2 linked regions of the Homo sapiens genome follow. The protein of the gene in region 1 purifies or fractionates together with the protein of each later gene. This does not show direct contact. Each region holds a gene or a part of one and is shown in the gene's direction. Other genes may lie near its edges.

Region 1 (7,534 bases):
GGGAACTGGCTCTAAGACTGTGGAGATGGCATGGAACAGTTAATAGGGCCACTCTTGCTAGGAAGCAAGACAAGTAAGTGTCCAAAGCCCTGGTCCAGGTTAGGGTCAAAGAGGTCAGAATGGCTGCTCAGATCTAGGGTGGCCTATCAACTAAGTCCAGTACCATCTTATACCCCTGAAGGTTGGATAGTTGTCTTCATAGCCCTTGAGGTGACCCATCATAATACTGCATATTCATTTGAAAGGAACGTTTATTTAGAAGAATGGAAGCTTCAGCCAGCCAGGTAGCTCATGCCTGTAATCCCAGCTCTTTGGGAGGCCGAGGTGGGGCAAATTACTTGAGCCCAGGAGTTCAAGACCAGCCTGGGCAACATAGGGAGACCCCGTCTCTACAAAAAGTACAAAAATTACCTGGGTATGGTAGTGCATGCCTGTAGTCCCAGCTATTGGGAGGCTAAGGTGGGAGGATCACCTGAGCCCAGGGAGGTTGAGGCTACAGTGAGCTGTGATCCCACCACTGGACTCCAGCCTGGGTGACAGAGTAAGACCCTGTCTCAAAAAGAAAAGAAGAGGAAAAGAAAGAATGGAAGCTCCCTAAGGTAGCAGTTCACCTTTAAAATTAGATAGATAGATAGATAGATAGATAGATAGATAGATAGATAGATTTAGATTTTCACATTATTTATGATTCTATACTGGTGAGTTGGAAAACAGGGTCATGATAAAAATTATGTTGTCCCTTTCAAAGAAAGGAAATTGGCCCCTCTTTTCACTCTCCTCTTAATATGTTCCCTCTTTCATCCCTTTTGCCTATACTCAGTAGGGTATGATAGTTTGTGGCTGTAGGCCTGGCCATCTCATCCCCAATTATCCCTTGTAAACAATACATTCTTAAGAGTAGCAGACTTCAGTTTCCTCCTGTTATCAGCACCTTTCTTGGTCCCCTTGTGCCATCAATCCAGCCCCTGTGAGTTTGCTGGGAATTTGCCTTGGTAACAATGCCATGGTGAGGGTTTTATGTTCATCTCCCTCCATTTTTACCATTCACAATTCCCTTTCCATCACTGCATCTTCTCATTTATCCCAACTTCTTCATTAAAATTCCTACTCTATACCACTTCTTCTTTGTCTCGAAAAATTTCCCCAATCACAGTTGTCCCTTGAATGAATACCTTATCTCCATGCTAGCTACTTTTCTCCCTGAAATAAAGTTAAAAACAATTATGTATGTGTAATCTTAAGTCTAGGATCTTGAACTTACTGCCTACATTCCCTTAATTTCTAGGTGATTAATGAATTATCATCTTAAAAATAAGCATTAATATTAGACTTAGAGGAAAACTTCAACATCATAGCTCTGTTTAGATCAGAATAACTGAACTTCTATAAATACAGGCAAAATAAAGGCATAGACCTTTAGAACTGAAAATGGCCTTAGACATGTCGTTTAGTATGACTGCCTCCCATGTACCCATTCCCAATTCCCACTTAAGAGAAAACAAGTTCTGGGAAAGGTGTGACTCTCCCAGGCTCACTGAGCCCTAGAGGCTGAGGCGGGAGAGAGACCCCATCCTTGTGCCTCCCATCCAGGGCTCTCCTAAGCACAGGGCTGGCTCTTCAGTAAACTGCATGGTTTGGTTTGAAGATTTACAAAAACATTTTTTGAACAGGCAGCAGAACGTTAAATTATGCAAGACAAGGAAGACTCTTTCCTGCCTTTTCCCACCTTCTCACATGACTTCCCAGTCTGGCTTCTAATGGGTATTTCTAGGCACTGTTTGACCAGCCTAGTGGGGACTCCCAAGGGTAAGCTGACCCACAGTTAGTGATGCAGATACTTTTGGTTGGATCTGGAGAAAGTGCCTTGCTTCCTCCTGATTCCCATGGCTATGTGTCATCTCTGAGTATCCTGATATGCAGGTGTAATCTGAAATGTCCTAAGAGACACACATCATTTGGCAGTAGTTTTTCATTATATTGTTGTGTTTTTGGTAAGGATTAGAAATAGAAAAAAGATTTTAAACCAGCAACGTAAAAAAATATTTGGGTTGCTTAAACTTTTTGATCTTGTAAAAGTATATTAATAATGTTTTTATGTGTGTCTCTGGCTGAACCACTCACCAAAAACAGAGTGGGGCTGGGGGGCAGTAACTGGAATTTATGTTTCCTTTTAGCTCCCCTATTCCAAGCTTATTGAATTACATGAAGTTCAAAACTTAACCATTATTTCCCCTAAGAATCCTAGTTGGCTATTGAGAATCAGTATGCTTGCAAGTTCTGAAACAGGGTTTCAGGCAAATTTTGAAATTCTCAGTGTGAAATCTAGCCTATTTTCCAATTTGGGGTGTACTATTAAACAAAAAATTACACTGAGAGGTAAAAGCACAGAGCAATTCAAAGAGGTGTCAAGGTTACTGGCATCTGATGCTGCTTCCCTGGAGCCTTGTTTTATTTTGTCATTCACACTTCACCTTTCTCATTCCGAGGTGACTTTTAATTTCACTCTTATTTTATGCACAGTAGTTAAACAGCTCACTTCAGATGTTAGCATTCTCTCTAAGGAATATTCCATACATCTGGTTTGCAGCAACTACCTTCTTCTCCTTCTTTGGGAAGCGTGTAGAAGTTCAGTGCCTGTTCACTGCATTAAACAGAGCTATTTCTGATCTTGGTCAACCTATAGACCCTGATTTACATATGACCTTGAGTTACTAAAAAACAAAAAATACACAAAGTCCTGCTTTGATTATGTAATAAGGCCACTAGGTTGACTCAGGGACTTTGTGATCAGAGCTGAGAATAGAAATCTGCTTTTCCAAATACCTCATGTCTTAGAGGAGAGCCGAATCCAGCCTCTAAGCCATGGTGTACGTTCCTGACCACAGACTTAGAATTACATTTCAGAGGGAGGCACAGCACATTTCCAAACTTCCCTGCTTCCTTTTATACTCATTTTCTCTTTTCTGTTTCCCAAGATGAAAAGTGCCATCCCTTCCCCAGTCCTGCCATGGAGAATCTGGCCCCTAGCCAGCCCCAGAAGTTCAGTCATGGTGGCCTTGGCAAAGATTCATAGTCAAATCTGAGAGAGGATCACACTGGCTAGGGCCCAGGGTCACTGAGGATGTAGTAGCCTTTATCCTTCTGAGTAAAAATCATGGTATCCACATGGGAAGTCAACCAGGTTTTGTCCAACCCCTCATTTTACAAGTGGGGAAACTGATACCTACAGTAGAGATACGATTGGCTCTGCATTACATAGCTTGGCAGTGATAGAGGGAGAGCTGGACCCCAGACCAAAACTGTGTGATGCCAAGACCGCGCTGGCCCATTCACTGCTGTATCTCTAGCAACTATTAATAGCACAGTGCCTGCTGCATTGGAGGGGTTCAGCGGCAGGAAAATCTGTGGAAGGAAAAAACAAACGTAATATCTCTTTCTTCAGGTCAGCCTTCCATTATTCTTCCCCTTTTCCTTATATTTAACTAACTTCATCCTCAGAAAAATCCCCTCTGTCACCTCCCCCCGGCCAGGAGAGATTACAGAGGCATGGACAGAACACTGTTCACCTAAGCCAGGAAGGCCCCTGGTGCCCACGCAGCCAGAGCAGGAGGCAGGCCCTCAGAAAGTCTCCTGGCCATCAGCCTGGCCTGGGTAGGGGCTCCCTCCTAAGTTTCCTGCCAGACTGAGGCTACGTATGACCATTTATGGGCCCCTAGTTGTTACAAAGGTGTTTCCAGTTCATTCGGGAAGGAAGACTGATCTCAAAAGCTGCTGATGTTAAAGAGGGATTCAGAAAAGTTTGGGAGCCCCAGGCTTGGGGATGGGATCAGGATGGGGAAATATCCTGTTCTAAGGGAGAAGGGACCCTCTGGGCCCAGCTAGGTCAGGTAGGCAAATGTCACTTGGGATTGCCCCTGTATGCCCTGAATGTCTTAAGATTCTGTAGTTGGAAGAGGGAAGATTCAGAAAAGAGAAAACCTTTGCTGTTTCCCAGGTTGTTGGGTCTCAACGGCGGGGGATTTCACCCACTTTGTCCCCAGGGACAGCTCTCCTGCTGTGGTGTACCGGCCCGCCTGGACTCCACGAGCAATGGCCGCGGATTCAGAGACCCCCTGTGCGCCTGGAGAGCACAGCTTTGGGGAACCTGGCCCGGAAAGGAGCCTGGAGGAGAGCAGAGGTGAAGAGGGGCTGTCACTTGCCGAGCTCCACGCTAGCCAGAGGCAGGAGCGCTACGCTGGCCCTCCTCCCTCCGGGCCCTAGATGGCCCCAGCGCTCCGGAGTCATCGCGCCCCGCGTGCGCGCCCGCCTGCTCCGCGCACCTGCCGTGGCCGCCGCGCGGGTCTGACCGGCTGGCGGGCGGGCGGCGCGCACAGGTGGCGGCGATTGGGCAGGCGGGGCCCAGAGGGTGACGTCACGGGCTCCGGTCCCGGCGGCAGAAATAGGGCAGCCGCGGCGGCGGTGGCACAGCAGCGGGCAGCGGCGGCTCAGGGAGCTGGAGCCTCAACAGCCTCCAGCGAGCCCGGGACCCGCCGACAGCCCGAGAAACCAGCCGAAGGACGCGGGGCGGGGTCGCCGCCGCCGCCACGGGGTGCTCCCTCCCTCCCGCCCAAGTCCGGCCACCTGGTCTTCCCCTCGGCCCCGGCCGTCTCAGGTACGCGGGCGCAGCTCCCAGCGGGCGCGGGGAGGGTGCCATGTCGCTGGCGCCGCCACCAGCCGGTCCCGCTGCACCCCACTGGGGTCCTGGCGCCCGCGGCCCCGCATCTTGCTGCAGGGCCCGGCGCGGGCGCTTGCTTGTCCTTACTGCCCGCGCCGGGAAAGCCAAGTTTGCCCGCGGGGAAGGGACCGCTGGGCCAGGGCTCGGCAGGGCTACCCCGGCCAAGGCCAGGACTCGAGGAGAGGCTGGGACGCCGAGGCTCGTGGCCGGGGTCTACGGTGGGGACCGGAGTGACCCGGTTGGCACGCGGGGCGCCACGCAGAAGCGCTCGGGCCGAGCCCGCAGCTCGCGCCCGGCTCCGAAATCCTGCAGGCGCCGTTCTTGGGTTCAGGACCCCGAGCGGCCCCGGCGGAGCCAGGCGAGCGCGGCCCCTCGGCCCGGGCCCGGTGCCCTTGGCTCCGGGTTGGGGCGCCGGGCAGGCATTCTCAGCACCTCCTCCCCGCGGCTTTGCGGGGAAACTTGCGTCTCCTCGCTGCAGCCCAAAGGGCCCGCTGCGCTTCGCCTGGCCCTGGCTTCCCCGGGGTCCGCCGCATGTGAGGCTGGGGAGGAAGGAATCAGGGCACGACCCGACTCCAGGCAGCCTGCGGCGCTGCTTGTGCGTAGCCGGCCGCGGTCCAGAGTGAGCGGCCCGGGGTACCCGCTTGAACGTGTCTAGGGAGCAGTGTGTTGGGGGCGTTCAGCGTTCGGGCTGGGGGCTTGGTCCTAAGAGAGCTTGCACTGTGGATGATCTCCGCCCTCTTTGCGCCCGCAAAACAAAGACGAGTTCTGAGTTTCAGGAGGGACCTGGACGAGGCAGGCACAGCACTCTGCTTTCGGCGCCTGTCGCCTCGAGTTTGGGGACGAGCTGACGCTAGTCTTTGGGGCTCCCTGCAGCCGACAAAGCGGCGCCAACCCCAGGCCTGCCACCTGAGGACTTTGTGCCCGCAACTCTTGCGGGAGCGGAAAGCCGCCGAGGCAGTGGGGTTTCTTGTTTTCCAGAGCGCGGCGAGCCTCCGCGCGGCGCGGCAAGTGCACTAGGAGTGCGCGGGTCAGCGGGGCGGGCCCGGCGAGGTCGGTGTCGCGGCTCGAGAGCGGGTGCCGGGGCGCTGTCCAGCAGCCCTCGCTCGCGGCCGCGGGCCGCCGACACTGATGAATGGCGCGGCCACAGCCCGCCGCTCCCCTCTAGGTGTCGCTTCCGCCGAGCTTTCCTCCAGTGAAAAACAGCGCCGGCAGCTTGGTCTGTTACCTTCGTAAATTTGTTGCAAGCCTGTGCACCAGGAATTGTACTAGATGGGGCCCCCGAGATACAAACATCCGTCCAGGTTCTCTGGGCCAAACGTAAACAGAATTTCAATAGGTGGTGAAGTAACTGCCAGCCAAAATGTTCACCGGGAATGGGCCTGTGTCACAATCTGTGAGGGGAAAAGACGGATCAGTGAGCGACTAGGACTCTTCTTGAAAGTCCTAAGTTATTTTCCTACTGCCAAATTTAGGGGAAACCAGCGATGCTTTTTAATAGTGTCTTCTTAATCCTGGGAGCCAGGCGCCAGTTTCTGTGCCTGCCCCTCTGGCCCCCAGGACAGACTCTGGGTCTGGTTGGCGGGGGGTCCACCTGGGAAGGGAATGGTCGGAGGTGTGAGTGATGCAGCTTCTGAGACTCCAGAGCCACAGCAACTCTCAGGCAGGAGCTCAAGCCGGACATACGAGCAGATGCCCTACAGGGCACGTGTCTGCTTCCCATCTTAGCGTTGTGAGAAGGAGGCACTGCAGCATCACTAGACCATTTCTGCCATACTCTGCTAAATGTTCGCTTTTTCCCTCCCATCCTAGGAAAAAAAGGCACCACCCTCTCCAAAGACTTCAGACTGAGCCAAAGTTCACATAAGAAAATAGTCCACTTTGATGTAATGTATTTAAATTGCTCGTTAGAGTTGTCCTAGTGCTTTTTTCTCTCTTAGACTTTTATGATCATCCTCAATTTTTGTTGATTCTAGGAAAGCTCTTTTTCTTCTGGAAAAGGCCAGCTTGTTTTTCTGGGTATTAGGAGAACTTTTATCCTTTCGGCTGTGCCCTGGAGGTGGGTGAGGGAAGAGGAGGTTGGATTTTTCCACCATGACCAGTCAGTCACTGAGGACTTTTTTTCCTTTTACTAAGGGCCGTAGGACTTTTTAAATGTGACCTTCACGTTATGATCTTTTGTTTGACTTAACACTATATTCAGAGACTAGCATTGAATAGTCATTGTTTCATAAAACTACCTTAACTCCTACCTTGCCTTGTTTGAGTGTTTCTCTGCAAACTCAACCTTCTTGAGTTGCTTATGTGCGGTTAGTTGTGTGCTTCCTAGCTTAATGCAATTAGATATTTCAAGAGCACATCTTTCTTTACATTTTCTGTCTCAATGCATAACATAAGGCATGGAATTTCCAATAAAATAGAACTGCAATCAAGAGCATGTGGTTCTTAAGAGGTATGAGCTGAAGGTTGTAAGGATAAAGGTTATTGGAAGTCACATGTGTGTCTGTGTTAAACGTCAGAGTAAATAGGAATAGAGATTTATACATGGCACATAGAATAATGTAGCCATCTAATTTATCAAGTGTTGGGGAAGAATTAACTAATGATATAGAGTAGATAATTAATAGGAAATGCAATTTAACTTCATTAGGGCTTGCTGCAACGTTAGCTTGCTATATCTCCATGCCTAATTTCCCTGGGTTGGTGTTTTAGGGACTGTCTTAGGAAATCTGTACCACTTTCTTTTTTTCTAAAACACTCACATATCAAAACTAGGGTCGTAAGCCTTTGAGAGGTTCCCGTACAGCCTCCTGGTTTCACGCT
Region 2 (7,000 bases), on another chromosome or scaffold:
GCAAGGTCAGTAACTGTGCCTGGTTATTACCAGATAATGCTGCTTTAATGTAAGAAAACCACAGAGCCACAGATGGAGCTACCTGCTGCCATGTAGCCTTCCCCATAGGGACTGACCAGCAGCAGGTCTATAACATACCAGATCTAAGTCCCTACCTCAAAAAGGAGATCTACTAGCGTGCATTTCTACTGAGAGTTCACAGAACTGTGGGTGGAATGTCTTGCCAGTGCCCTTTGGAAAAGACATCTTCCTACCCACCCTTGCCCTATCCTTTTTTTTTTTAAGACCCAAACTACTCAGCTTGATCTGTAATTTTTTTCTGTGCATTTATTCCACACCCAACTCTCAGAGCATGGTATGAGTGACCTCTGAGTGCTGTCTGTGGATTCTGGTTGTAGCTTCTTGAAATCCCCCTTCTATCATCTGATACTGTACATTCTATGGTACCATGCAGTTTGCAAACCACTTTCCACATCTTTTATTGTATTATATTCATATGATTTATTTAAGGCAATATTTCCCCAGAAATACTCTCTTAACTTCATATATTCAAAGGAATATATGTAATTACTTATGTTCTTCCACCCCCAATTAATAAGGTTGCAGAAAGCAAAGTAAGGAAAATTAAGAGATTATTTACTGTTGGGCTTCTTAGAACTTCAAATATATTAACATGCATTGTGAATTTTCAAGGCAAGGAGAACGGCTGCAGTGTATGCAGGGGAGATCCTGCTCTCTGGTCACACAGCTCTTATGTGATATATATAGGGCCCAAGCCTTATTTTTGGTCTTTTCTTTGACCAGGGGCAGTTCCTATTCATGTTGCCCTGCAACTGATGGTAAGGTCACAGTTTCTTTGAAGTCCAAGATAGTTGACCTTTTAGAAAGTGATTATTGGAGTGTGTAAGTCAGATCGGTCTTTTTTTGAGATAGAATTTCGCTCTTGTTGCCCAAGCTGGAGTGCAATGGCACGATCTCGGCTCACTGCAACCACCGCCTCCCAGGTTTAAGCGATTCTCCTACTTCAGCCTCCCGAGTAGCTGGGATTATAGGCACGCACCCCCACACCTGGCTAATTTTTTGTATTTTTAGTAGAAATGGGGTTTCACCACATTAGCCAGGCTGGTCTCAAACTCCTGACCTCAGGTGATCCGCCCGCCTTGGCCTCCCAAAGTGCTGGGATTACAGTCATGAGCCACCGTGCCTGGCCAGATCTAATCTTTTGACAGTGGGACCAGTTCATTTTGCTAACCCCAACTTGAAGATCCTCACAAGCCTTGCAGTTTCATTTATATCCTAAATGTTATATTTCATCAAGAAATTTGTCTAGTCTCTGTGCAGATGAGCCAGGTTTCCCAGCATAGCCCAGATCTCATAAGTACATGCATCAGGGGAGCAAGTCAGGCAGGTAGACCTTGTGTCTGCCCTGCTACACTGTAGGTCCTTGGTAGAAGAAATGTAGGAGTTTGTATGTATGTGTTTTCTTGCCCTTTCTAGCTTCTGCATATACCAAGAAGAATTAAATAGAGTAATAGAGAAAAGTCAGAGGAAATCTTAGGATATTTTTCAGTTGAATATTCTGTTCACTGCAGATTTTGTTTTTGTGTTTTATTTTCCTCTTTTTATTTACCCCCAGATGAAATTCTGGTTAGATACTTTCCCAAGCATCTAATCTGTAAGAAATCCTGTTTTCCTTAGAAAATTTTCACCTAGCTTTCTCTGGAGTGGAAAAAGTCTAAATGTCTTTTTTTTTCTCATTGAGTCTAATTAAAGCATAGATTTGCACCTCCAGGTAACAGTATTGCAACAAGTGTGGGGAATTCGTCTCAACACAATTAAGGATAAATTACAGCCAAGTATTCCAGCAATGTCTCATTCTGAATTTTGCCACCTGTAAAACTTCACAGTGGAGAGCACTGTAGAAATTGGCCATGCCATTGTTCATTGACTTTTTAACAATAAGGTCTTTTCTTTTTAACTTACACAGGTTGAATGATCCTAAAATGTCTGAAACGGAGCGCCAGTCCATGGAAAGCGAGCGTGCAGACCGCAGCCTGTTTGTCCAAGAGCTCCTTCTGTCCACTTTAGTGCGTGAAGAGAGCTCATCCTCAGATGAGGATGATCGGGGGGAGATGGCAGATTTTGGTGCTATGGGCTGTGTAGATATTATGCCTTTAGATGTTGCTTTAGAAAACCTAAATTTAAAAGAGAGTAATAAAGGAAATGAGCCTCCACCACCTCCTCTTTGATGACATCCCAATTCGCAGACAATGTCCTCTGTGCTGTATTTGCCAATGAAAGTGGACAACAACTATCTTGGGTTTGTTTGGTGATTGTAATTTCAGGTCTGTCACTCTTGTTACATTGTGTACATTCAAAAGGAAGAGAGAAAATATATATGATAATCATTTCCACTTAACTAATTTTTACTTCTAGCAGGTAAATGTAGGTAGCAGTGCAGGGGTGATCTCTGCTTCCTGTACCTTGACATGCAAAAGGCTCTCCTAATACTCCACATTCAAACTGAAGAGGAAAATTGAAATCTCTAATGAAGCTGCTGTGTGTATTTATGAATATTAATGAATAAAAACTGCTTGGATGGTTTACCTTAACTACTGCATGAGGTTTTTTGCAGCGTGCATGAGTTTTAGTGACCTTGTTATTTAAGAAGTTAAATACAAGGAGTAAAACTTAAAAAAAAAATACAAAGCCCAAAGCTTTCCCAAACATTATTCAATGGTTACACGACGAAGTAGCTTTTGAATAATGTCTGCCTGAATCACCTTTCTTTGTGTGCCTCCTACGCACAAAGCCAGCTCTGCAGTGGAATCTGGGGATTATAGCCGGGTGTGGCACTCCGCCCTGTGTGACTGTCCTGTCGCCCTGTTAGTCATCTTGCCTGTGTGGAGCTCAGCCTGTCTCTTTAACTCATCTGTAGAAGACACACCAGTAAAGCTACTGTTGGAATCTGCTGCAGGGGCCTTTGTGTGCCCTAAAAACAAATCCTGTTCATGTTTGTTTAAAGTTTTTACTTTTTGTGGTTGTTTAAAATTTTTTCAATTGTTAAATATGTTTTATTCAGGTGTAGATGAATTTCATTTATTGACTGTTCAACAGAGTTAACCTGAATTATGTTGTCTTTGTTTTTAAAAATCTCACATTCTCAATCATATTTTGCATTATTTATGTATTTGCTTTGTAGTTTGCTGAGACAGATCAGTATCAGGGGAGCTTTGAGGATTTGCCTTCCCAGATTTGTCAGTATATTACAACCAAATTCTTAATGCTAATTTTAGCACCTTTTATTTATTGGGTTTTTTCTGGCATAAAAAGTAAAGCCTTTTAATTGAATCATGCCACCTATATGCCTATATTATTAATCCTATGTGTAAAAAAAATGTACAGCTTTTTTTGGGTTTGTTTTGGGGTTTGGAAGGGCCGGGTTATTTTTTATTTCCTGTTTCAGTTTTTGTGCATAGACTTTCACAATAGCTCCAAGGCAGGGACAGCGGGTTTGGGGGTTGGGAGGGCAGTTTTTGGAATGTAAATTTAGGACTTTTAAAAAGGTGCGCACAGCTTCTGATAAATTTATAACTAGACTTAACCTAATCATGTCTCGTTCCAGTTCTCTTTTCTCTGAGCCCTTTTCAAAGTCTCCTCTCTTTCTCCTGTCATCCTTTTCCTTTCCTGTCCGTGTATCTCCGTTTCTTCAACATGACAAGCATACAGACTTGAACACCCCTCCGGTGTTCTTCCGAGAACTGTGAAGTCCATGTTCATCCAAATGTAACCAAAAAAGAAGTCACCCTACATGTCTGAAAAACTGTTGCTTCTCCTCTGAAACTTCAAACTCCAACGATTTCCAAATACAATAGCTTTGTTTTCTTTAGTTCTGTAATGGATAATGTTTAAAGGAAAACTTTACACCAGGCTTCTGGTTACACTAGAAGTCAAGCCCATTAGGGATTTTCATTTTTTTTCATTTGGTTGTTGAGAAGTTTCAAAAATCAGTTTTCAAGCTGTGGTCTTTCAAACACATCTGCACATAAGTCACACATTTCAATAAAGCATTTTCAAGACTGTTGACCACTTGAATTTCTTTGGTGTTAGTGGATTAACCTAACCATTACTCTGAGATTTTATATCTCTAATCCAGTATTTTTTTTCTTTTTATGCTAAACATGGGAGATCCTGGTTTTGTGTGAATGCATTATTTTGGATGTGAGAAATAAATGCCAATTATATGTACTTTCCCTTTTCTGCACAAATTCTGGGAAAATGTAAAAGCCTTCATTTTTTAACATGGTTTTAGGGAACAACTGTAAGTCCATTCAGAGCAGTTTAATTTAGATGATCACTTTTAACACTGCAGAAGACCTAAGGAGTCATAAGATTCCATCTCATGTAGAATACTGTATATTAATTATTTTTTACCAGATATTTTACAAATACCTCACCTCATCCTGTATGTAATCAATAATGTATTATTTTAGGGTAGAACGACACAGAATATCAATATAAAAATATATTCAAGCCCTTGAAATTCTTGTGTCCTTTTTCTTTAGTTTCTGAATGAAAATCTTATTACTGGATGTACTATTGAATAAAAATTAATTGCAAAGACTTTGATGGAGACAAAATCAAAATATACCACTGTTTATTTTGGCAGCACCTTCAAATTTCTAAGGACCAGATCCTGAATTTTGAGAATTTTTTGTTTCGTTGAGTTTTGAGTGTCTAGGATATAAGTTTATAAATGTTCTACAGTGCTTGTCTTTACTTCCTGTTTAGAAATCATTTAAATCTTTCCCCTCGAGGTGCTCTGGAAGAAGTTTAATTTCAGCTCTGAACAAGTAGAAATAACTGTGCTTCCTTGTATGGCTGCAATCATAAGACAGAATTTCTGTGGTTGGCTACCGTGAAATCTTTGTATTTATATTGCATTGTTTTGTTAAAAAAAAAAAAATCCACAGAAGTAGAACCTAGGTTTGCTACTAACAAAGTAGTGGATTCTTATAATTAGGCTCAGGTAAAGTAAGAGAAAACTTCTCTCCCTGTGGCCCCCAGAGAAATGAAGTAGGATAGCAGATTACACTATTAGAAATAATAGACGTAACAAAAAAAATCCAGCCCATTATCCCCACCCCCCATTTTCCCTCTCAATATTAGAAATTTCAATAATATGCTGACAGATTTTCAAAGGTCACCAAGGCTTTTGTGTTTTTTTCCGGTCTGTGGGCCACAGTTAAAAGAACGGGTAACAGGTTCAGAGTTCTCTTGATACGTCCAAGCCTTAGTTTCCAGGAAAAAAGCTAGGCTCCTCACTGCAAATATTAACGCTTTATATATTTACTCCATGGATGTTGGGGTAAGCACATATATCAATAGTTCATAGCTCTAGTTAAGGACAAAGTGGGTTGGGGGGTAGAAGGAGAATACTAGAGAGGTTACGGTAGCAGGTGGCTGCAGAAAAGAATCTTTTGAATGGGATTCCTGTAACAGTGTTCAGTACCAATATTAAGTCTACTGTAAGTGGGGTCTGATATGGCTTACTGATACAGGCATGTGTAAAAAACTAAGTGTGATGGAGGAATGGGTGCTAAAAGCTCTTAACAGTTTTGTAGAGAAGCCCTGCAGCCGTGTTTACTATATATGACATGCCTGTTTCTTAGTTTGCATGCACAGTTTAAGGGGCACATGCAATATTGGTTTCATGTGCAGTAAAAATTAAAACACGGCTGAGCGTGGTGGCTCACGCCTGTAATCCCAGCACTTTGCGAGGCCGAGGCGGGTGGATCACGAGGTCGAGTTTGAGACCATTTTGGCCAGCATAGTGAAACCCCATCTCTACTAAAAAATACAAAAAGTTAGCTGGGCATGGTGGCAGGCACCTGTAATCCCAGCTACTCGGGAGGCTGAGGCAGGAGAATCGCTTGAACCTGGGAGGCAGAGGTTGCAGTGAGCTGAGATCACGCCGCCATTGCACTCCAGCCCGGGCGACGGTGCAAGACTCTGTCTCAAAAAAAAAAAAAATTAAAACACTAGGTACGAAATTATCCCAGAATTATACGCGAAAGTTGGTGTTCATGCTGGAAAACAGTTACGGTTATCTGTGCTCTTTCTAAAGCTCAACTAGACACTAAAACAGTTCTCTCCTTGAGACCGGAAGTGGGATGGGGGTGGGCAGGTGGAAGGGAAGAGGCTGGGGAGGAGCCTCTCATCTCATCTCATTTCAGCCTCAACAGTAATTGAAACCCTATGCCTGGCCTGGAGTGGGTAGAGGTTAGGGTTAGAGTGCAGGATGGAGCAGCAGTCTGCAGACTTTCAGGTTGTGACGATGTCATGAAATTCTGTGCTATTAAACATGGCTATGTCTGAGTCAGTCATTACGGTATTCCAAAGCCAAATTCAAGTGACTGTTTTTCTGAATAGTATAAAAATCTAATTCCCTGTGCTTATCGGCTTCAACTGTGCTTACACAACGTTTGTTTCTAATTCGTACTCTTGCCTCTTGGTTTCTGTAGTTTTTCAACCCATTTCTGTCAGTGTTCTATAAATGCATACATTCGTTATTTAAGGAACCCTGCAGCAGACCTCGAATAAAATGTGACTTGATGTTTGTTGCCACTTCCTCAACTTGGTTAGCAAATTCAAGTTTTGAAAGACGATTCGTCTCAGAGAAGTTGATCCTGAACCTCCACGTCACATTTTAGTCGGTTGCTATTAGGTGGGTAATGCCTAATAACATGGGTTCCTCAAATCACAAAGGAGAATGCTCTCAAGTCCTCATGTTAACTTTAGTAAGTCAGTTAACTTTACAGCAACTAAAGAGATCAATTAAAAAGAACCCTTAAGTCTGACTGTCCCAGGTAACTTTACTTGCTGTACAGATAGTGCACAGATATGGATGAGGGCTGCACATGGCTGATTTGAAAACCCATGTGGGGCCGGGTGTGGTGGCTCACGCCTGTAATCCCAGCACTTTGGGAGGCCAAGGCGG

The links. The genes of interacting proteins can lie anywhere in the genome.
Region 2: the proteins of FSTL4 (region 1) and KCMF1 purify together in Homo sapiens (affinity purification with mass spectrometry; 2 studies listed by BioGRID and IntAct, with this or other methods). This does not show direct contact.

The regions. Positions count from the first base shown.
Region 1 is NC_000005.10:133,609,442-133,616,975, reverse strand, and holds the start of FSTL4 (follistatin-related protein 4 precursor), read left to right. Parts: upstream 1-4,434; 5' UTR 4,435-4,651; intron 4,652-7,534.
Region 2 is NC_000002.12:85,051,161-85,058,160, forward strand, and holds part of KCMF1 (E3 ubiquitin-protein ligase KCMF1), read left to right. Parts: intron 1-1,987; coding exon 1,988-2,249; 3' UTR 2,250-7,000. UniProt on the Homo sapiens protein: E3 ubiquitin-protein ligase which accepts ubiquitin from an E2 ubiquitin-conjugating enzyme and then transfers it to targeted substrates, promoting their degradation by the proteasome.